3 separate regions of the Homo sapiens genome follow, and regions 1 and 2 are each linked to region 3. Evidence: fine-mapped expression QTL. A gene starts in region 3. Each other region holds a variant in brackets. All regions are shown on one strand. Distances are between the middles of the regions.

The links. PIP is the estimated chance that this variant, and not a neighbour inherited with it, causes the effect.
Region 1: its variant is the best candidate, but not a certain one, in a credible set for the expression of TFIP11 in whole blood (INTERVAL, PIP 0.72).
Region 2: its variant is the best candidate, but not a certain one, in a credible set for the expression of TFIP11 in whole blood (TOPMed, PIP 0.78).

What each region holds. Positions count from the first base shown.
Region 1 is chr22:26,466,257-26,474,435 of GRCh38, forward strand. It overlaps HPS4 (HPS4 biogenesis of lysosomal organelles complex 3 subunit 2), which reads right to left. Exons shown (of 14, transcript NM_022081.6): 5 at 6,576-6,683; 6 at 6,046-6,162; 7 at 4,463-4,557; 8 at 2,295-2,367; 9 at 1-6. Among named protein-coding and RNA genes, the nearest start is that of HPS4, 13 kb to the right of the region's middle. RefSeq lists an enhancer at 4,704-5,903. The variant G/A (reference allele first, on the strand shown) is at 3,581.
Region 2 is chr22:26,434,182-26,442,362 of GRCh38, forward strand. ASPHD2 (aspartate beta-hydroxylase domain containing 2) reads left to right here. Exons shown (of 4, transcript NM_020437.5): 2 at 1-320. Among named protein-coding and RNA genes, the nearest start is that of ASPHD2, 9.0 kb to the left of the region's middle. RefSeq lists a silencer at 6,366-6,522 and an enhancer at 7,835-8,181. The variant T/C (reference allele first, on the strand shown) is at 3,814.
Region 3 is chr22:26,509,229-26,517,379 of GRCh38, forward strand. It overlaps TFIP11 (tuftelin interacting protein 11), which reads right to left and starts at 3,245. Exons shown (of 15, transcript NM_012143.4): 1 at 3,166-3,245; 2 at 2,871-2,947; 3 at 1,389-1,474; 4 at 836-1,053. The coding sequence starts at 1,044. It overlaps TFIP11-DT (TFIP11 divergent transcript), which reads left to right and starts at 3,304. Exons shown (of 2, transcript NR_144529.1): 1 at 3,304-3,806; 2 at 4,184-5,340. RefSeq lists enhancers at 3,128-3,307, 3,530-4,067.

The DNA.
Region 1 (8,179 bases), 43 kb before region 3:
GAGTCTCTGAAAACAAACACACACAGAAGTTGGCGCTGGGCACCACATTCTCCTCTTGACCTAACCATCAGGAATTTGCTGTGCCATCTGTTCATAAAACTTAGCCAGGCCCAGAAAGCTTGTCCCAACCACATGCTAAGAGCCAAGCAGATGGAACAGAAGCTCCCCCAAGCTGCTGGCTCCCACTATGGCTGGGATGAAGCAAGAACCTGGGCCCACACAGGCTGCAAGGCAGCAGCTCCACCCAAACTCACATCACACTCTACGTTCTGATTTTCTCAGTCTCTCTCCCTTCTGGGAATAAAATTGAGGATTCCTGTTCTCTTTTACACCTTTGGGGAACTCATATTCTAGAATACAGTCACATCTGCCACAGCCCTGATGTAGAATTCACATAAATTCCATTATAATAAAAATGTCAAAATACTGTGACTCTCACGATAAAGGATTTGACTTAAACAAAATGCTATACCCAATCTCTCGTTTGTTCTGGTTCACAATCAGGGCCTAAAACCTGATGATTTTCTCAAAAATGAAAACATCTCTCGTTTCAATCTGAGGGTTCCAAAAGAACCCACCAAAACAAAACCAAACCAAACAAGAACTGCTCTTCTAGCCAAAATGACTTTCAATCTTAGAATGATATGGTGTTCTTCCTTTTTTGGTGATTTTTAAAAAACTATGTTTTAGATTACTAAGCCTAACCTCAATTTACTCTAGACAAAGCGTTGAAAAAAAAAATCACATACAATCCCTCATCCCCAAGCTAGTACTATTAATATTGGGTATTTTTTCCTTAAGCCTATGCAGTTTTTATACTTTTGAGGCCACACTATATAAAATTTCATATTTCTGCTTAAAACAGTAACACGCATTTCCTGCCACTAAAACATCTTTGGCCATTTTAAACGGCTGATTAAAATTTTATGAAGGTTTAAGTGATATGAGTAAATTAATCATTTACCTACCTTAGACCAGTAATTAGTAAACTTTCTGTGCAAAAGACAAGACAGTAAATATTTTTGGCTTTGCAGGGCATATGGTCTCTGTCCCACCTACTTGGTTCTGCTATTATAGCTCAAAAGCAGCCAAATAAAACTTCATTTGTAGGCAGGTGGCCCACAGGCCATAATTTGCCACCTCCTACTTTAAGCATTCAAGTTTTGTCTGATTTTTCACTTTCATAAAGCTTGTTGTGATCAAGTTTTGAGTATAAATTTTTTTCAGCAGTTACATTATTTCCTTAAGATATATTCCTAGAAGTCAAATTATTAGGAAAAAAATAAAGGGCATCCTTAACGTTCTCATTATCAAAGTGTTTCCCAGAAAGGCTACTTGAATTGACACCCATAGCCACAGTGGCTGAGGAGGCTGAATAGAGCCCTACCAGCATTTTACATGCCTGTTCACTAATACATGTAAAAAGACAGCCTCATGATACGCTGGAAACCACAGCTTCATACACAAAACAAAAAAAGGACTGGAAGGAGATATGCCAGATGCTGGCAGTGGCTATCCCTGTACAGTTCAAAGATGGGCAATTTTATTCTCAATGAGCATGCATGGCTTTTTTTTCAATATAAAAACAATTAAATAAATATAAAATGGAAGTATTTTAGAAGAGTTTGTTTTCCTTATTTTTTTATTTTTATTTTTATTTTTTGAGACAGAGTCTCACTCTTGCTACCCAGGCTGGAGTGCAGTGGCGCGATCTCAGCTCACCTCAACCTCTGCCTGCCAGGTTCAAGCGATTCTCCTGCCTCAGCCTCCCAAGTAGCTGGGATTTACAGGTGTGCACCACCACACCCAGCTAATTTTTGTATTTTAAATAGAGATGGGTTTCATCATGTTGGCCAGGCTGGTCTTGAACTCCTCACCTCAAGTGATCTGCCCACCTCAGCCACCCAAAGTGCTGGGATTACAGGTGTGAACCACCGTGCCCAACCCCCTAAATCTTTCTAAAGACACATCCTTTACAGTCTGTCTCTGAAAAGTCTAACATCTCTTTGACATAAAGAGACATCAAATTCTTATGGGAAGTCGAATTCAACCAAGATTTCCTTGGTTTGAAGAAAAAACAACTATCCAGGCCTAGCTCGTGGAAGAAAACATTTTCTTTCAGCCTCACCAATGGCTTCACTACTGAGGAGAATGACATTGGAGGACTTGGGGTCCTGACAAGACCAAGTGAAACAACTGCTCCACGGCCTCTGCTCCTGATCCCTCCAGCCTCAGGCTCAGTGACCAGTGCTCTGGGGGATGCTGTCCAGCCAGGTGGGTGGACTTTACAATACCTGCTCCTGAGGTGCTGTTCGGTGAAGCAGGACCTTGGCGGTGAGGGAGGGCGGGAGTTGGGTGCTGACAATCCTAGGAGGTCACACACAGAACAAGAACACCATGAGACGAAATACACCAAAACACTCCAAATTTTAAAGATGCCTAACAGCCCGTGTTGACGAGGATCTTGGGGACTTGGCTGGTGGGAGTTTCAACTGGTAAAACCCTTACAGAGGGCACTCTGGCAGTTCCTACCAACATTTAAAATATCCAAACCCTTTGACTCAGCTTGTACCAAGATGTATGCGTAAGAATATTCATTACAGGGAGAATGGTAAAAACAATTAAAAAATGAGTAAACCACCAAAATGTTCATCAACAAGACAGTAAAGCACAACACAGCCAGAATCCCAAAAAGTATGCAGTCCTCATAAGAATGAGGTAGACCCATATGAACCGGTAAGGAAATCTTCACTGTATGCGTTGAGAAACCATGTGATCCTATTTAAGGAGATAGCAAAAATAAACAAAAGCAATATATGCATACATGTACCAGTGGGGACAAACACACAGAAAGAGCAAGATGCCCACCAAACTGCCAATGGTGAGGACAGGTTAAGAGTGAGGGAGAGGCTGGGCACAGTGGCTTACTCCTGCAATCACAGCACTTTGGGAGGCTGAGGTGGGAGAATAACTTGAGCTTAGGAGTTTGAGACCTCCATGAGCAACATAGTGAGATCCCATCTCTACAAAAAAAAAAAAAAAAAAAATCAAAAGCTTGGCCAGGTGTGGTAGCAAGTGCTTGTTGTTCCAGCTACGTGGGAGGATCACTTGAGTCCAAGAGGTCGAGGCTGTAGTAAGCTGTGTTTATGCCACTACACTACAGCCTGGGCAACAAAGCAAGACTGTGTCTCAAAAACAAACAAACAAAAATGGTGAAGAAAGAAGGGGGGCTTTTAAATTGTGCTCTGTGTGTTCCTCTATTGATTGATTTGTTTACAGTGAAAATGTATTCATGTATTAGCCGTATAATGTAAATACAGGCTGGGTGCAGTGGCTTATGTCTATAATCCAAGCAGTTTGGGAAGCTGAGGATCGCTTGAAGCCAGGTGTTTGAGACCAGCCTGGGCAACATAGCAAGACCTCGTCCCTACAAAAAAAAAAAAAAGAAAAAAAAATATATATATATACATTTAAGAAATGCAAAATGAGAAAAGGGGAAAAAAAATACTGTCTTTGGTGGGTATGTCACTGACGAACTTGGAAATCCCACAGCTGATTCAGAACCATCATGATAAGAACC[G/A]GGGCAAGGAAGAAGAGTGCAAAGCCCACCAGGGTCTATGCTCGGTTCTTCCGCATCTGTCATCTCATTTCATTCTTCACAAGGGATGTCTATTTCCCAGAAGAGAAAATTGAGGCTAAGCAACTTGCCCAAGGCCGCATGGCTGGCGAAAGAAGGGAGGATCTGGGGCCGAGCCTGTCTGGCCCAAGGGCCCCTGCGAGAGCCTCAGTGCTTCTCCATTTACACAGTAGTTGCCTGCTCCTCAGGAAGCTCCGGGCACAGCGCAATGGCCCTGCCTGCCCTGGGCTGTGACAGCAAACCCTCCATGAGGAGAGAGGCCTTAGATGACCTAGAGTGGCTCTTGGGCACTCAGATTCACCAAGAAGCCCTCCAACTACATGAAGAAGTGAAGTGAATTCTCAGAGGCCAACCAAGACACTGGCCCAGCCAAGAGGCTTGAAGGCAGCTGGATAAGGGCCTGTAAGGCTGCTTTGCAGAGCTGAGCTGAGGCAAGCACACCAGGGTCTCTGGGCAGCAGGAGGAGGGTCACAGCAGGCCCCTTCCATGCCTCTTGACTACAGTGCTGGCTGCTGGCAACGCTCGGGACTCTGCATTAGCATTTTGCAGACTGACAACTATTCCAGCATGCCCCATACTGAGAATTATAGGGACATTCTTAACTCTTTTCTGAACACAACTATTTCCAATTTCTCAGCTTTGCTCAAAGACAGGTACACACCTGTCTTTCTAAACTGAGTCAAATCTAAACTACCTGATATTTGCCGAACCAGCCCACTTGGAACTGGCCAGAGACTGGGCTCCCCACTGTGATCTGGAGGTGGCTGATGGTCAGTTGTGCAGCAAGGGAATGGGGCTGGAAGAAAGGGGTCTGGAGTTACTCACAGTCCTTTATAGAGGATGCAGCCAGCGAGAATGTGAGGCGAGCGCTGGCAGGTCTGCAGAATGCGGGCTGCCTTCAGCAACAACAGGGGCTCCACCTGTGCAGGGCAAGAGGCATCATGCCCACCCATCAGCATGCTCACAATCAGGAAGGGAGAAAAGGGGAAAGGGTTGTACAGAACAGCTGGACAGGGTGTAGCTCAAAGCCTGGAAAAGGAGAATGTGTCACACAGTGAAAGCTGTGCCATGGCTTGGGACTATTCTACCTCTCTATACTCAGAACTGCTGACACCACTAAATGCCAAATTCTTAGAACAAGGAGGCCTGTCCAGAAGCTAGAAGGTGCAGCAAATATGGCATATGGCTATTCAAAGGGGTCAAAGTAGATGGCCTGGGAGACCGACTGTCTACCCTGACAATGCTAAGACCTCACGGCAGCAGAAGAGGAGGGTGTATCCTATAAATACATGTCATGGTACCAGGTGAAACCCACCTACCCTATCCTCCACTTTCCTTCTGAAGCACAATCCCCATGGTGATACAGGTGGCTTGATGTCTGACCAGGTTCCATGACTCTATTCCATCACATAAAATGAAAACATCATGCTCTTTCACTCGGGGAAATATGCCTCAGTTCCACATTCCTTGTATGGAGTCAGGGGCCTAGAAGTCCCTAAAAATACAAGAAAAGCATCTGGACCTGGTCAGGAAGAGCCAGCAATAACCAGCAGCCTCCTCAGACTTCCACCTGCCAGCTAGAACCAGCAAGTATCCACCAGCTGTTAGAACTAGTGTTAATGGAGCCTCCGGAGCTGCTGACACATTAAGAAGTTTATTCTTCATAGCCTCAAGACTGTGCCATCCCAGCCAGCCATTCTATAAAGCTCTGGGGCCAGCTACAGGAAGTTTTCCAGACTGGAGCAGGGAAAACCCTTCCCCATGTCTGGTGGAGTCATGCTCTGTGAAGGCTGAGCCACAGTGCTACACCCCTGCTACAGGGACATTATTTACTATCGCAGTGAGACACAGGAGAGGGCTGTGAGTCAGGGCTCAGGTAGCTGGCTCTTAATGGGGCAGCACAGGTGGTCAGGCCAGCCACACAAGCAGCCTAGGTTTCACTGAGTGCCAACCGCAAACGGAGCGGCTCAGAGATACAAAAACAGTTCCCAACCATTCTCTCTCAAAGACAGCAACCTTGTTTTTGAAATGTTCATGCTGGGCATTTTTGATGCTGAGAATAACTAGATCATATGATATGAATATCAAGAGAGGCGGCCTTCAGATTACTGAGTTCAACACTTCTGAGGCATGAACAAAATACTAATTCCCTTTACTGAGCATTTACTTGGTGTCATTTGAGGTACTGCTTCACTTGATCATCAAAACAGTTCAAGAAGGCAGGTATGCTGACACCATTCTTTGGATAAGGGAAATGAGGCTGAGAGGTGACCTGCCGTGTCATGGCCCTGCCTGAGAAGTGACATTCTACTCACTTTTCCAGATATAGTTCACTTCAGGAATATTAAAAAAGTATCCAGAAGCCCTAGTCTTACATATAAAATGAATAAGGAGGATGAAAATGTTACTTTAGTTTGGTCCAAGTTCCAGAGGGAATTGAAAATCTTATGCAGATCACTGGTGTTTTTCAGAATTTGCTCGATGAAGGTGTCCCACTCCGTGCTCAGTTCTTCCTGAGAACAGTTCTAAAACAGAAAGAGCCTCAGGTCAATATCTGAGATTTTGAGGGACAGATTCTTTGGCCAGAGTCCCAACTACCTCAAAAATTGTTCCTCACACAGGAAACTGACCGGAAGGGAGGACCTGTTTTAAACCTATCCCATCACAGATCCACGGCGCCTGCCGCGTGGGGGTGGCAAGCAGGGCCTGCGCTTTCTAAACATCCCAGGGAGGAGATGGGGATAAACATTTGGAATAAATGTGACCTATGCCACTAGGCCCAAAGGCATATGAGGGGCCTCCAAGAGCTCCTGACCTTGTCCCCAGACACAATGTGTTTATATGAAGTATACAAGACCCCAGAGTAAGTGCTGCATTCTGGCAATACCGGTTTTTATAAAGAGGCCCAATGTAAGACTCCTCAACCCCATACTTGTACCTCATAAGCTAGGGAAACAGGTCCATTGTAAAAATTAAAGAATCCAACTAGCTGATCCAGAAACCGCTTGCAGCTGACATCAGGGAGCTCCACAGCACAGCCCAGCACCTGTAAAGAGAGAAACCAGGAAGACAAGCATCTTCCTTCTCTTTGAGTCCAAGCCCAGAATCCTGGCATCCAGGGCTCTCAATTACCTGACTTCACTGGCCCATCGAAATTGATCTTCTATTGTCCCTGAGTCCACACCCTTCATTCTGGCCAAGTTAATCTCCATGGACAAGTAAGTTCTGTACCTCAATTCATGTTTTCCAATCTCAAATGTCCTTTTCCTTATTGTTCATTTCCCCAGAACTTACAACCTTCAGTGCCCACCACCAATTTCAGTATCTCCATGAGGTCTGTTCTATTACCTCGAGCCAATAATGCTGACCTTTTTTCTGACCCTTGCATTGTTAGGACTGTTATTTGGACAGTAGATGTTTAATCTGGATTCCATTACAAACAATGGACAGGACTCAAACTCCTTCATGAATGGCCATCATGTTTCTCCAGCTGGATAGAGTGCTTTAAGAGCAAGAACTGACCGCAATCTTCCCAGTCCTAGATCTCCAAAATGCTGAGCGTAGTGGTTAGTTCCACAGAAGATAAATACTTGGCCGGGCACGGTGGCTCATGCCTGTAATCCCAGCACTTTGAGTGGATCACGAGGTCAAGAGATCGAGACCATCCTGACCAACATGGTGAAACCCCGTCTCTACTAAAAATACTGGGCGTGGTGGTGTGTGCCTGTAGTCCCAGCTACTCAGGAGGCTGAGGCAGGGGAATCGCTTGAACCTGGGAGGCAGAGGTTGCAGCGAGCCGAGATTGCGCTACTGCACTCCAGCCTGGCAACAGAGCGAGACACCGTCTCAAAAAAAAAAAAGTACTTGCTGAGTTAGAAAGTTATCTGGTCATATGTTTAAAGAGCCTGAAAAAGTTCCTATTACTTGATGTAGTAATTCTACCTCTAGGAATCTGTCCTAAGGGAATCATCAGATATTTAAACTAATAAACCCTGACAGAAAACAAATAAACAAAAATTCCCTCTGAATGTAAGCTACAGTAGCACAAGGATCTTTGCTTTGTTCCCAGATGTAATCCAAGAGCTTACAACAGTCTGGCATGTAAGAAGTGTTCAATTCTTCCAATTGATGAACAGACTGAATGCAATTGCAATCATAATCCCACCAGCTTTTCTTCAGAAACCACAAACTGATTGTACAATGAAAACACAAAGAACCTGAAATATCCAAAGCTATCTTGAGAAAGAATAAGGTTGGAGAACTTATACTATCTGGTTTCAAGACTTACTATAAAGCTATAGAAATCAAGACAGTGTGGTACTCACACAGAATCTTCAAACAGATCTGTGGAAAAGCCGAAAAGAGTCCAGAAATAGACCCACGCTTAAATGGTCATCTGATCTTTGGCAAAGGAACCAAAGGGAAATCCAATAGGGAAAGGAAAATGTTTTCAACAATGATGCTGGAAGAACTGGTTATCCAGGTGGAAAAAAAAAAAAAGATCCTTGACCTCTATTCACACCATTCACAAATATTAACCCA
Region 2 (8,181 bases), 75 kb before region 3:
AGTGCTGGAACGGAACTTCCAGACCATCCTGTGTGAGTTTGAGACCCTCTACAAAGCTTTCTCAAACTGCAGCCTCCCGCAAGGATGGAAAATGAACAGCACCCCCAGCGGGGAGTGGTTCACCTTTTACTTGGTCAATCAGGGGGTTTGTGTTCCCAGGAACTGTAGGAAGTGCCCACGGACGTACCGCTTGCTCGGAAGCCTTCGGACCTGTATTGGGAACAATGTTTTTGGGAACGCGTGCATCTCTGTGCTGAGCCCTGGGACTGTGATAACGGAGCACTATGGACCCACCAACATCCGCATCCGATGCCATTTAGGTATGTTGCAAGGACAGGGGTCTCCCGGCATGCACATTTGCAAGCTCAGCCCCTCTCCATCAAAACATCGCGAAAGCTCAAATGGTCAGAATTGCGCCTTTTCGCATTGTTCACTTTTAGCAAAAACTGATGAATTGCATGTAAACAATTTGACAGCAGAGATTGAGTCAAAAAGAAATCTTGTGATCAGTGCAAACCTAATTTCTGACAGCAGCTCTGTGCAAAGAACTTTCTGCAGTGACAGAAATGTTCTCCATCTTCATTGTCCAAAATGGTAGCCACTAGACACATGTGACTAATTGAGTGCTTGAAACTTGTCTCCTGTAACTGAGGAACTAAATTTTAATTTAATTTAAATAGCAGTGACACATACGGCTAGTGGCTACCGTATGGGGACAGTGTCGTTCTAGAGCCAAAGACTTGTTAAAATGATTACCGAGCTTCATAATGATGTCCAGGAGGCTGTGAAAGATACTTAAGCATCTTTGCAGTCATCAAGGATGAAATGATCCTTGGTGATAAGCTTGTTTTACTCCGATTCTGAGAAAATTGGTCGTATGCGTACTGTGTGTGCGGCTGTGGTTTTGCAAACAAAGACTGGAGTTAGACAGCCTTTGTTTGCATCTTGGCCCCACCACGAGCTGTGCTACTGTAGGCAAGTCATTTCACCTCTCTGAGCCTCAATTTCACTATTTGGGAAGTGGAGGTAAAAAGATCTTCTCCTAAAGAGTTATTCTGAGGATCCAATCAGATAATGTGTATTGTATGTATGCACACAGAGCCTAAAATAGAGCAAGTATTCAATAAAAGTAGGCTTAAAACAACTTAATCATGGAGGTATTAGTTCCCCAGAATGCCTTATTCCTGGTGAGTGGCGATAAAAAGCTCGTCTCTGGGATGGTGGCATCACCGGTTAGTATCTCAGATTAGAGTGTGCAGAGACAGCCTTGGCAGCGTCCAGCTTTACAAAGTTCACAACGCTGCTTCAGCTTCAGTAGGGAGGAAGGAAGAGCAGCAGGAGGAACCTGGTGCATGGGTTGGAGTGGGAGTTTCATAACCACGTTCTGCAGAGGAGCCTCAGGGCTGCCTGGGAAGGAGCCGGAGCTGGGGGCCCCCGAGCCCTCTTCACCCTCAGCAGCTCTGCTTCTCCTGCTGTCTGTGTGGGGGTTCTGAGTAAGATGTGGTTTGGATGGAGGATATCACTGCACTAAAAGAAAAGAAAAGAAAAGAAAAGAAAAGAAAAGAAAAGAAAAGAAAAGAAAAATATAATGAGATTTGAGCAATTGACATGGTAGGAATTTCAAGAGTAAAGGGCGGACTGGGTGGAGGCTTTGGGGGAGGTGGCCTGAATTCCTGGTCAGCAGTCAGCCGTGAGACTTTGAGCAGGTCACTGAGTCTCTCTCTGCCTCAGTTCTTCATCTGTAAAATGGGGAGATGGTACTTACTTCACAGGATTGTTGAGAGGATTCAATGAGTGGCATCTTACATGGCCCCTTGGCAGGATTCCTGGCACGTGACAGCATTTGATGAATGGGAGCTAGTAGCTATTATCAAGGACTGTGTTGGACCATGTGAAAAATGATCCATAAGACATAGACCCTGCCCCCAGGAAACAGTGGGAAAGGAACAGGCTTCGGAAGCAAACAGATCTGGACTCAGGTCCTGGCCTCGCCCCATTTGCTGAGTGACCTTGGGCAGGGCTCTGAACCTCCTTAAGCCTCCGTTTTATCTTCTCTAAAACAGAGATGACGATTCCCACTTGCTGGCTGTTTTGAGGAGTGGGAAGTAATATGTGTAAAATGCTTGGCAGGTAGAGGGCAGTGGACAGTAAGCTAATCTAAGTGATGGGATGATAATCCAGGTGATGGTCATTAGCAAAACTGCTGTGCGAGGCCCCAAGCCTCACTTGGCTGCAGACGGGGTGCCCTGGGGAGGTGGGTCTGACACTGGAGGATCCCCACACAGAAATCAGGTGCCGCCAGGGTGGAGCGAGGGAGCGGAATCATCCCCTGGGGCTTGGGGAAGCCGGGTCTAGGCTTGCTGGGGAGGCCAGTAGTGTGGGCTGAGGTTGGACAGGTCAGGTGGGAGCAAACCTCAGAGGCCCTTGATGCCAGGCTTGAGAATGGAGGCCGTGGGCAATGGGGAGTGATGCTCTTCTTTTGAAAGGTTTGCCTTTATGTATTGTTTTAAAACTTCAGAATGACATCTGGGGAAGGGCATTTGAGGACTGATGTGGTAGAATTTCAAAGAGGTGTGAGTAGGAAGTGATGGTAGCAAGGAAAATCTGGGGTTTGCTTTCTGTAGATTAACACTTGTTGTTCATCTGTATGATATGCATGCATGTGTGTGTGTGTGTGTGTGTGTGTAAAACATGCCCACGCTGGCTCACACTGTGGCCTGTGGCCTGTCATTCCTTTCTCAGCCCAGCTAGGTACTTGCCAGAAAAAGTAGGCCCTCCATGTTCCTGTAGATAGCAGGAAACCTTCTTGGAAGACGTCCCACTGTGGCGTGGCTTGTTCTCCACGGCCAAGGCGAGCTCCCTGGTTGGGTTTTCTCAGCGTTTCCTTCTTTACACTATCATGCCCACATTAATATCCACCCAGGAAGGAAACAAAGGTGTGTCGGATTTATGTGACCTTGTGTGTTGACAGAGAGGGAGTCCAGAGAATGAGGTCAGAAGCAGGATAAGCCTGGTGCGTACCTGGTGGCCACACCTCTGCTGGTTACCTGGCTGAAGGTAGAGGCACCTGCAGTTCCAGAACCGTGCTCTTGAAATGCCAATGCTTGCTTTTCTTCTGCCTTCTGCCTGAGCTGTGACTGATGGAATTGTCCCTGTGGACCACTGAAGACCCAGCCACTGCTCCTCACTAACACAGCCCATTTGTTCGAGACATATTTGCTGAGCCCTGCTGTGAGCTACTTCTAGAGGTGGCATCACCTAGTCCCGACTTCATATGGGACCACAGGACAGCTTCAGGCCCACCCCCCACTCAGCATCGTACACAATGCTGGGATATTCCAGATGCACTGCCACAAACTTCCAGAAAACCACCTCTGAAACTCACCAGGCAGATGTTACCAGGGAGGCAGATACTTCATGAAAATGCATGAATATGTTCAGCAAATTCTAGCTAAAGAAGCACAGTTAGACTCTTGTTTTTCTTTTCTGCATGTCATCAGATTTCTAGGTGGTCTAGCCGGGTGGTAACAGTAGATCAGCTCATGTTCCCCTTGCCCACCCTGAGTGCCCGGTTGCCAGCCGCCTGAAGTGGGGGCCACTGGTGGACACAGCCCTTTCTCTACCCTCCTTCCTGCCTCTTTCAGGGCTCGGTAGGGACAGAGCAGCAAAGCTTGAGCCATAGAGGAGCATATGGGACTATCTGAGGCCATGTGTGGGACCTGTCACTGTCCTCAAGAGCCACTGGAATGATCTGTTTAGGGAAGAATTGAGCTCTTCTGCCAACTAAGCTGGTTTGTGGGCAACAGGCAGGAA[T/C]GGGGGCAGGAGCAGAATGAAGGGGAGGCGGAGAACAAGAAGCAGGGGGGTGTCAAGCCAGCAGGCCAGGCCATTTTTCTATCGCACCGTGGCACGTGGCGATGAATCATTTAGTGGCCCAGAGAAAGGGGAGCTTCTTTCTGAAACCCCGGGGTGGCTGTCCCTGCAGAGAACTGCCCATTCCTAAAGGCCTTCGCCACCTGAACCAGCCAGTAGGGGCACACGCCAAAGGAAAACGTAGCCTCTGAGTCCCTCCATCTGGGCGTCTTTACAGCCCTGACTCCCCCAGCTGCTGTTAACCATAGTGGGAAATCATGGCTTCTGTCAGGATGAGCAGTCTCAGCTGATTTAATGAAATGTACTATTGAGAGTTGAAACATATTAGGGTCCTCTTAGAGGGACAGAACTAATAGGATATATATATACACACAGATATATACACACATACATATATATACATATATATACACACACACATATATATACATATATATAGATACACACATACATATATATACATACATATATATACATACATATATACACATACATATATACACATACATATATACACATACATATATATACATACATATATATACACACATATATACATATATATATACACACATATATATACATATATATATACACATACATATATATATATACACATACATACATACACACACACACACACATATATATATAAAGGGGAGTTTATTAAGTATTAACCCACATGATCACAAGGTCCCACAATAGGCTGTCTGCAAACTGAGGAGCAAGGAAAGCCAGTCAGTTTCCAAAGCTGAAGAACCTGGAGTCCGATGTTTGAGGGCAGGAAGCTTCGAGCACTGGAGAAAGATACAGGCTGGGAGGCTAGGCCAGTCTCACTTTTTTATGTTTTTCTGCCTGCTTTATATTTGCTGGAAGCTGATTAGATTGTGCCTGCCAGATTAAGGGTGGATCTGCCTTCCCCAGCCCACTGACTCAGATGTTAATCTCTTTTGGCAACACCCACATAGACACACCCAGGATTAATACTTTGTATCCCTCAATCTAATCAAGTTGAAACTCAGTATTAACTATCAGACATGTTAACTACAAGAAAATCAGCAATCAGGCCAGGCACAGTGGCTCAAGCCTGTAATCCCAGCACTTTGGGAGGCCGAGTCAGGTGGATCTCTTGAGGCTAGAAGTTCGAGACCAGCCTGGCCAACATGGTGAAGCCCCATCTCTACTAAAAATACAAAAATTAGCTGGGCACGGTAGTGCACACTTGTAATCCCAGCTACTCGGGAGGCTGAGGCAGGAGAATTGCTTGAACCCAAGAGGCAGAGGCTGCAGTGAGCTGAGATCATGGCACTGCACTCCAGCCTGGGCGACAGAGCACGATTCTGTCTCAAAAAAAATAATAATAAATAAAGAAAAATCGAAAACTCCACAATCACTTTAATTCCTCTGTTAATAGTATAACAACTAGCATTTATATCATCATGTCCAGTTTTATAACAGCCTGTTCTTTGGAGTCAGGCTGACTCAGCAACACTAAATGGTAACTTTTTAGCAGGTCATTTAACTTCTTAGTTACCCCATCTGGAAAGTGGGTGAAGTGATACCTGTTAAGTGTGTATTTAGCACAAAGCTGAGTAGGAAGACACAGTAGGTCTTCAGTTATTGGTAACAAGGATAGAAGTCCCATAGCAGCCCTGGAAGGTTCAGTATGCTAATGTCCCCTCTTTACAGGTGAGGGTATGGCTCAGAGAGGCTGAGTGACTTGCCCAAAGTCACACAGCACATAAGAGTCACAACCAGTCGTCTGTCCCCAAGTCCTCCGTCCTTCTGTCTCCTCCATGTGGCCTCTTTATTTGAATTATTACTGTGAACGTACTTCCTGGAACCATTATTTCTGGTTCAAAGAATACATTAAAATACTCTGGCTGCTGGAAGGAAAGCTATTTCATTTTTATGCTAAAGGACATTAAATCAGAGGGGAATGCCAACTGGCCCAGGGTCATTGTGGTCACAGTGAGTCACTGAAGACAGATGAGACCACCACCCATCCCAGCTCCTCTTCCAGGACTCTGCTTCCCCCTGGGTGGGCCTTCCTGAGAGCTGTTGGGCTGACCCAACCCCTTCTGAAATCATTAGATGGCCACGGTGGCCCCTTCTTTTCTGGACATCAAGGTAGTGATGGGGGCCAAGTGTTTCTGCAGACCCTTGTGTTGGAAAGGGCGACTGAGGGTCACACATGGCAGTGTTCCAACCGGACCCCACTGGCCGGTTGAAGCATACGGCTTATTTTTTATTTTTTATTTTTATTTTTGAGACAGAGTCTCACTCTGTTGCCCAGGCTGGAGTGCAGTGGTGCGATTCGCCCAGGCTGGAGTGCGGTGATGCAATCTCGGCTCACTGCAACCTTCGCCTCCTGGGTTCAAGCAATTCTCATGCCTCAGCCTCCCGAGTAGCTGGGATTACAGGCGTCTGCCACCATGCCTGGCTCATTTTGGATAATTAGTAGAGAGAGGGTTTCACCATGTTTGAGACCAGGCTGGTCTCGAACTCTTGGCCTCACGCGATCTGCCCACCCCTCAGCCTCCCAAAGTGCTGGGATTACAGGTGTGAGCCACTGTGCCCAGCCAAGCATACGGCTTCTTACAAAGCTGCCAGTCTATTTCCTCTTGAACCTAAGCCATTACCTTAGAAGTGTCCTCCAGTTTCCCAGAATGAGGGCAGACGAAGAGCACGCCATTCTCCAGCCTCAAAACGGATTAAAAGGCTAGAACCCAAGGAGGAGAACACTGTGTGAGCCTTTGATTTTTTAATCGCAACTGAGATAGTCCTAGAGGGGAGACTACAGTAAACACAGTTACTGGGTAAGGCAAGGTTCTAAACCCAACCTCCCTGGATTTCTGGGGGTCCCCTGGTTAGGCTTCAGAGTGTAGTGCAAATGTCAGTCTGTGACTTTCATAAAAGGAATCCATGACCCAGAATAGATGAAGCCAATGAAGGAATGAATTTTTGCCAAGAGTGCAGTGAAGATCTAGATGGTGGCTTATAAACAACAAAAATGTAGAACTCACAGTTCTGAGGCTGGAAGCCCAAGATCAAGGTGCCAGCAGATTTGGCGTCTGGTGAAGGCCTGCTTCTTGTTCATAAATGACACCTTCTCACTGTGACTTCACATGGTGAAAGGAGGTGGCCAGGAGCAGTGGCTCTTGCCTGTAATCCCAACACTTTGGGAGGCCAAGGTGGGAGGATAGCTTGAGGCCAGGAGTTCGAGACCAGCCCGGTCAACATAGCAAGACCCCATCTTTACAAAAAAAAGTTTAAATTAGCTGGGCATGATGGTGCACACCTATAGTCTCAGCTACTCAAGAGGGTGAGGCTGGAGCATCTCTAGAGCCTAGGAGGTGAAGGCTGCAGTGAACTATGGTGGAGCCACTGCATTTCAGCCTGGGCAACAGAACAAGACCTTGTATCTAAAAAAAAAAAAAAAAAAAAAAGATGTCAGGCCAGGTGCTGTGGCTCATGCCTGTAATCCCAGCACTTTGGGAGGCTGAGGCAAGCAAATCTCTTGAGGTCAGGAGTTCGAGATCAGCTTGGCCAACATGGTGGAACCCCATTTCTATTAAAAATACAAAAATTCGGCCAGGTGCAGTGGCTCACGCCTGTAATCCCAGCACTTTGGGAGGCTGAGGCGGGTGGACACGAGGTCAGGAGTTCAAGACCCGCCTGGCCAAGATGGTGAAACCCCATCTCTACTAAAAATACAAAAATTAGCCTGGCACAGTGGCAGGTGCCTGTAATCCCAGCTACTCGGGAGGCTGAGGCAGGAGAATCGCTTGAACCCAGGTGGCAGAGGTTCCAGTGAGCCAGGATCGCGCCACTGCACTCCAGCCTGGGCGACAGAGTGAGACTCTGTCTCAAACAAAACAAACAAAAAAATTAGCCGGGTGAGGTGGTGGGTGCCTGTAAGCTACTCCAGTGCCTCCCAGCTACTCCGGAGGCTGAGGTAGGAGTATCATTTGAACCTGGGAGGTGGAGGTTGCGGTGAGCCGAGATCACACCACTGCATTCCAGCCTGGGCAACAGAGAGAGACTCCATTTCAAAAAAAAAAAAAAAAAAAGGGAAAAGAAAAAAAGATGCAAAAGGAGGTAAAGAAGCTCCCTTGGGCCTGTTTTATAAGGATGCTGCTCCCATTAGGACCCCACCTTCATGATCTGATCACTTTCCAAAGGCCCCACCTCCTAACACCATCACCTTGGGGTCAGGTTTCAACATGGGAATTTGCAGGGACACAAGCCCACAAGCCTTCAGACCATAGCACGGGCTCCAGAGGTGTGAGGCAGGTCAGGTGCTTTAGA
Region 3 (8,151 bases):
ATCCTTGTGGATACCGTGATGCTTCCCATCAAGGGCCTTTGCATATTGGGACCTCTTCTACCACCCTAGTTACCTTCTACTGTCAGTCATATCAGCTTAAGGGTCACTTTTCTCCACAGAAATCTTCCTTGACCTCTCAGAATAGATGAAATGCCCTAAAATGTGTTCTCCCTCATGTCCTCATGTCCCTCATGTCCTGCATCACAGTCACAAGTTTGATCGTCTGAGTTGTTAATGCCTATTTCCATCTTCTAATGTCTGGGCTCTAGGAAGGCAAGAATGGGTCTATAGCACAGGCCTAATACATAGCAATCGCTCAATAAACACTGATAATTAAATCAGTGAGGCCAGGCGTGGTGGCTCACGCCTGTAATCCCAGCACTTTGGGAGGCTGAGGTGGGTGGATCACTTGAGGTCAGGAGTTCAAGACCAGCCTGGCCAACATGGCAAAACCCCGTCTCTACTAATAATACAAACATTAGCTGGAGGTGGTGGCGTTTGCTTGTAATCCCACCTACTCGGGAGGCTGAGGCACGGGAATCACTTAAACCTGGAAGGTGGAGGTTGCAGCTAGCCAAGAGCACGTCACTGCACTCCAACCTGGGCAACAAAGTGAAACCGTGTCTCAAAAAAAATAATAATAAATAGAATAAATCAGTGAAAGAGCAGCACTCTAGCCTAAAGAGGAAACCAGACCTCTCGAGATGATGTCACAGCTAACAGTCTCAACAAGGCCAGGTGAGAAGTATACTTATCAGGGTATCTCCTCCACTCCCTGTCCATCTTCCCCCTCTTCCCTAAAGCAAGGTGAAGCAGCCCCCATGCCAGGCAATACCGTTTGCCTCCAAAGCTGGGCCTCTCATCATCCGAGTCTCGCTCTGCCCACACCCCGTAGGTGGCTTCTTCCTTGGTCTGCCAGTGGCGCTGTCGGTTGGGGTTGAACTCATTCTGGAGATCCCAGTCAGTGATCTCAAAGTTCTCCCGCTCGTCATCATCATCATCAATGCGGCCTTCCCCATCCCGGTATAAGTGGGACAATGACATGGCCAGTCACTAAAGGAAGAGACAAAAAGAGCACAGGCCGTAAGTCCTGGGGGCAGCAGTCGAAGGATTCCTTGTGAGTCTCTATTCCTTGCTGCTTTCAGAACTTTCTCCAAATTCAAAGTCCATTAAAGTCAGCATTACTATTCAATAAAAAAGATATTAAAAACCTACTTTTAGATAACAATCAGTACTAAAACAGGTGAACAAAATACTACTCCTAACAGTCTATGATTCTTTAAAAGTACATATCTCCTTGTCCTAGTCAATATCATAAATATCACACATATTCACACATACACAAACCACACAAAAATAACTAAGTAGGTTATTTTGTACATTATTACCTTAGAAAATGAGTAGGTATCTTCTTAGATCCCAGATTCTTTTTTCTATTACTGAGGAAAGAATTATATCTGGATCCTTGGTGGTCCTAGGAGAGTGATTTTTTTTAGAATATGCTTTTTGAAATACATTACTTGATGAAACAAAATTTTCAGTTTTCCTCACAAAACATGAATTTCTTCTGATGAACTGAAAGACTGTAGTAATTATGAACACTATTTTAATAGTCAGATGTCCAGAGATTGATATAGAGAATCTACCTCACAGTAGCTGGGTGACCAGATTCAGTTGTCTTTCTTAAATTGGGATTAACTACCATACCAACCTTAGAGAAGGCTTACAAAGCAAATTCAATGAGTTCAAAATAAGTGCTCAAGAAACGATAGCTTCTACTTTAGTCCCATGATTAGGTTAATCATTGTATTAGTCAGGGTTCTCTAGAGCGACATAACTAATGGAATAGACATACATATATAAAGGGGAGCTTATTAACTATTAACTCACACGATCAAAAGGTCCCACAATAGGCTGTCTGCAGGCTGAGGAGCAAGGAGAGCCAGTCAAGTTCCAAAGCTGAAGAACTTGAAGTCCAATGTTCGAGGGCAGGAAGCATCCAGCACAGGAGAAAGATATAGGCTGGGAGGCTAGGCCAGTCTCTCTTTTCACATTTTTCTGCCTGCTTATATTCTTGCCGTGCTGGCAGCTGATTAGATTATGCCCACACAGATTGAATTGAGGGTGGGTCTGCCTTTCCCCACCCACAGACTCAAATGTTAATCTCCTTTGGCAACACCCACATAGTCACACCCAGGATCAATACTTCGTATCCTTCAATCCAATCAAGTTGACACTCAGTATTTACCATCACAATCATCATTATTATTATGGGACTAGGGAGTAAACTTAGCAAAGTGACTGTAAAATCAGGCAGGCTAAAATCGAAGCCTGAGTTCAAATTCAACTCTATCAGATACCCAGTGTATGAGAATTAAATATGCACGTGAAGCGCCAAGCATGGTGCACTACACAATAATACACTCCATAGGTGACAGCAATTGTGATTCTTGTCTTGCTGAAAGCGGCCTTAAGGCACACGGAGTTCACTACTTCCACAGGCAGTGTCAAACTCTGGTCACCTCTGGCAAAACGTTATCTCTGCCTTCTTCTACTCACTGGTGCACCGGTTGGGTGCAACGGGTCCCAACCTCTTCCAGGAGTGTTTAGGACAGAAGGATTTTCAGAAAAGACGGGGAATCTCAAATACATAAAGTTAAATAATACCACTGCCTGCGTGGGCATAGTAAATGGTAATAAGCCCCGAGTAGTCACAAGTTATGAAGCCTTTATCAGTAGATGCTAGGTACATGCTGGTCGCTTGAGACCGATTATCAACTGTCTGCATCAAGACACTTCTGCAAGGTAGGTACCGTTAGTTTTCATGCTTCAGATAAGAAAAAGGAGGTTCAGAGAAGTTAGTAACTTACCCTAGGTTCCACTGCTCATAGGGCTCAAACTCAGGAGTGCTAGAAGTCAGGCCTCGGGCTTGTCTCTCTCTTGCTGTCTAGGTTTGGTGAAGGAAGCTCAGGTTCTTAAATGAATCCAAGCCCTAAATCCCAGTTGACCCCAAGCAGCACCGCCCCTCTCCGTGCCTCGGCAGAGCTGTCTACGAAATGGATTCCCCTCCCCACACCCCAACGGCTTGGACCGAAGCTCGCCTTCCCTGAGCCTTCGTCCCTACTCTCACTGGCGCTGAGTCCCCTTGTGGCCAGCCGTGCTCACCTGTCCGAGGGTCCAGCGTACCAAATTCAGCTTCACCATCCGCGCGAGAAGACGCCGCTCCTACACCAGAACCCGGAAGCACCGTGGCCGGCGCGCCGGAAATGACGTTAGTCGACAGCGGATGTCCTGCTGGCTGCCAGGGCAGCGTGGGACGCTACGGCGGATATGGCTGCAGAGCGGCCGGCTGGGATCTTAGATAGGAGGGGTGGATTTGCAAGGCCTAGAATAGCTGGGGAGTGGTTTCCCCGCGGAATCGGCCTCCCTGCCGCTCCTGCTTTGTACTGTGACGCTCAGCCTGTGATGACTGGTGTGGAATCCGCTGAGCCACCTTGGCCTAAGGAGACTTTACCACTCTGAGATTGTAAATCTGTAAAATAGAGATGTAGGATTAGCCCATACGGTAGTTGTGGTAAATACTGTGAGACAATAAGGGGCCTGGGACACAGCATTCAAATGGGAATAATGAAGGTCAAGACTGTGATTCCTGTATCTTTGACGCTCTCGGTATAAGCACCGTCGTGGGCACAGGGCAGTGGCCTTTATGCAGGAGTTTAAGAGGGAATGAAGGAATGAATGGGCAAACTCTGGAGTTCCCAAGTATTCTCTCCAGGAGCTGTTTCCATTCTTTTCGTTTCCAGCAGGTTGGTAAATTCATTAATTTATTCATTGATCTAATTAAAATATACTAAGTGCCCCTCACCTGTGCTAGGCCAATGTGATACAATGAGCAGAACAGTCATGGGCCCTCCCTGGGAAGCCCTCACTAGCCCAAGGACTCCTTGTAGACATTTAAGTGTCCACAGGCTCTGGAGTTCCAACCTTGAGTGCAATTTAGCAGCTGTGGACCTTGGGCAAGTCATTACATCTAAGCCTGTTTTCTCTTCTGCAAAATGGTTAAGGATTCAATAAGATAAAACTGTAGGCAATGAAAACCGTACCTGGTAACAGTAGGTGCTGAAGAAGTGTTAGCTATTAATTTTTGCTTAATTTTTCTCTCTCTGCTCTATGTGATGAAAAGATTCAAGAGGCAATTGTTGGAATGTAAAAAGAGCACGGGACTTGGAGTCAAATACTTAAGTCTACCATCAAGTAGTTGTTAAGAATTAAACAACAATTTTTGTGTACCCAGTTAAATGTGGGCTGCTTAGGAATGATGACTGTGTCTTAATGATCTCTGTATTCTTAGTGACATGTAGAATCATTGTGCCTGACACATAGTATGTACTCAGGAAAGAAATGGAAAATGTGGTTTTAGCATTGAAGGCCGGGAGAGAGGGTCTAACAGACTACAAGCCCTGCCAGGAGCAGAGTAAGGGAAACAGAGGAGAAAAGTGTTTTTAGTCTGTGCCTGAATGTATTTACATCTGTTTGTAGCCCAAAAGCCAAAAGCATACATACGCTTGGCTTTTCTGTAGCTATGTTTATGGCTTTACAGCAGATTTTATGGAGCTGCAATTACTTTGATCATGAGGGACTGATGCTAGTGGATTTACTTCACCAAATGGAACTCACTTTGTGGCTTCTGAAGAAGGGACCTTTGTGGACTGTCATGGAGTAGTTAAGAGTGCAGGCTCTGATTTAGTGATCAGAGTCTGCATTGTCAGGAATGGGACAAAGTGAAGTTATGTGGCACTTGATAGGATGCCCTGAGAAGATTGCAACATCACCCCTGTGATATTCCTGCTGAAGATCCATAACCTGGATGTAATCATGAGGATATATCAGACAAACCCACGTAAAGAGACATGCTGTATACAAAACTGTAATCTTAGAAAGTGCCAAGGTCATGAAAATCAAAGATAGACCCTGGAACTGTTCCAAACTGGAGGGGACCAAAGAGGCATGACAACTAAACACAACACATGATTCTGAACTGGATCTTTTTGCTTGAAAGGAAGTTACAGGGACAGTTGGAAAAGTTTAAATGGGGCCTACAATGCCGTGGTAATGATGTGTCCGTGTTAATTTCCTGATTTTCATGGTTGCCTGTTAAGTTACATCAGAGGATGTTCTTGTTTGCTGGAAAGTAAATCAATGTATTTGGCAGGGGATAAGGCATCAAATGGTCACCTTAATTTCAAATTATTACAGGGAAAATGTTTCTCTCTGTACTTAATAACTTTTTTGCAATTTCTTAAAATGAAAGCTCTGGAGTAAAAACTTCAAGGATCCAAATCTCGACTTTGCTACTTCTTAGGTATGGGCCCGAGGGCAGGTTGCTTCACCTCTCTACACCTCAATTTTTCCATCTGTAGATTGGGGATAGTGACAGTACTGATCTAAGAGAGTTGTTTAGAGAAAAACAAAAACAGAAAGTGATAATTAGTGCATGTAAAGCTCCTGGCATGGTAAGAGCTTTCTAAAGGATTGTGGCTATATTCTTATTTATTTATTTATTTATTTATTGAGACAGAGTCTCACTCTGTCGCCCAGGCTAGAGTGCAGCAGCACAATCTTCGCTCATTTGCAACCTCTACCTCCCAGATTCAAGTGATTCTCATGCCTCAGCCTCCCGAGTAGCTGTCATTACAGGCGCAGCTGTAGTGATTCTCATGCCTCAGCCTCTCGAGTAGCTGGCGTTACGCCGCCACGCCCAGCTAATTTTTGTTTTTTTATTTGTTTTAATTTTTTTTTCCCCCAGACAGAGTCTCACTGTGTCACCCAGGCTGGAGTGCAGTGGCACGATCTCAGCTCACTGCAACATATGCTTCCTGGGTTCAAGCAATTCTCCTGTCTCAGCCTCCTGAGTAGCTGGGATTACAGGTGTGCGCCACCACGCCTGGCTACTTTTTGTATTTTTATTAGAGATGGGGTTTCAACATGTTGGCCAAGCTGGTTTCGAACTCCTGACCTCGTGATCCACCTGCCTTGGCCTCCCAAAGTGCTGGGATTACAGGCGTGAGCCACTGCGCCAGCCTTCATTTTTAAAAACCCAATGTCATACCCCTTTCAGTCTCAAAAATCCATGGTTTTTCAGGATTTCTGGGATCAAATGCCCAGCCTTTGAAAAACAAGGAAAAGTTTTACAAGGCAACCAGAGCTTTAGGTTCAAGGTCTCATATCTATCGTGATCTCCTGTCATTTCCTAGAGGGGAAAAAAAAAAACAAAAACATTGCTTTGAGATTTGGGAACATCCACACTCATTTCTACATTCCCAATGAGGTGCTCAGACATGTGGCCTTCGCAGAAGGGGTTGCCAAAGCAACAAGGCTCCTTGGGCAGAAGGAGTCTGGCAGGGCCCTCCAGCACTCATGGGTCTATACCTCTCTTTTCGCAGCTGAGGCGGTGGGGGAGCCCCTGGCAGAGTGGAGGTGCCAGCACCACACAGTGAGTTTAAGGACAGGGCCAGGCCTGAAACCCAGGAGCTCAAACTCCCAGGCAGGTGCTTTCTTTGCAAAACCATGCATGGGGTCCCACATCATGATTCCTGTGTGTTCAGGGCCACAGAGCCAAACTCTGCAGACATCATCTCTTTGATTCTTCAGCCTTCTAAGGTAGTTTGTTATAACCCCAGAGTCCACATTCCTAACCTCTTATTTCTACAGCCTATGCCATACAGCACACTTTCCATATTGCCTACAAAAGATTTCGGGAAAAAAATATCGTCACTTAGTTACAACTTTAAATAGGTTGGTACCATAGAAACAATCCATAAGTGGCATTTCAAAGCTGATATATTTAAAGACTAGCACATGTACTTTTTCTAGGACAGTGACATTATACAGTTGCACATGGCTTATTCTTATTTTGCATTTTGTCCCAAAAATATATATGGTGTCCTTAACTTGGCAGAATTGAGAACCCAGATCAGCTGAGATTAGCAATTTGATTTCCCTCTAAATGTTTCTTACAGATGGTTTCTACCCTACTTATCTTTCAAGAATTCGTGAAGACTCTATCCTTATATGGAAAGCTGGAACATGAGGTTCCTTAGGCTCGGGGTGTTTATCTGGAAATTAAATATCCGCAAAACACAGTAAGGGGAGAAACCACAGCCTTCATCATTCATTTATTCATTTGTCATTAACAAATAATTAATGAGTACCTACATGTTATCTATTGCAGTATAACAATTACCTCCAAACGTAGCAGCTTGCAACACCAGTAAACATTATCTCACATAATTTCTTTTGGTAGGAATTTGAGAGTGGCTTAGCTGGGTGGTTCTGACTCAGGGTCTTTCATGGGGTTGCAGCCATCTGAAGGCTTGACCAGGGCTGGATGACCAACTTCCAAGGTGCTTCTCTCACATAGCTGGCAAACTGGTGCTGGTTGTTGGCAGGTTTCAGTTTCTTGCCATGTGAGCCTCTACACATGGTTACCAAGTGTCGTTATGACATAGTGGCTAGCTTCCCTCAAAATGAGCAAAGCAAGAGAGAGCAAGGCAGAAGCCACAAGGTCTTTTATGGCCTAGTCTTGGAGTCACACTGTCATTTCTGCAATATCTTTTTTTTTTTTTTTTTTTGAGACTGAGTTTTGCTCTGTCACCTAGGCTGTAGTACAGTGGCGTGATCTCGGCTCACTGCAACTTCTGCCTCCCAGGTTCAGGCAATTCTCCTGTCTCAGCCTCCTGAGTAGGTGGGACTACAGGCGCATGCCACCACACCCGGCTAATTTTTGTATTTTTATTAGAGACGGGGTTTCACCATATTGGTCAGGCTGGTCTTGAACTCCTGACCTCAGGCAATCCACCTGCCTCAGCCTCCCAAAGTGCTGGGATTACAGGCATGGGGCACCACGCCTGGCCCATTTTTTTATTTTCTTTATTTTTTATTTTTATTTATTTATTTATTTATTGAGATGGAGTCTCGCTCTGTCACCGGGCTGGAGTGCAGAGGCACAATCTCAGCTCACTGCAACCTCCACCTCCCAGGTTCAAGCAATTCTTCTGCCTCAGCCTCCCGAGTAGCTGGGACTACAGGTGTGCGTCACCATGCCCAGCTAATTTTTATATTTTTAGTAGAGATGGGGGTTTCACCATGTTG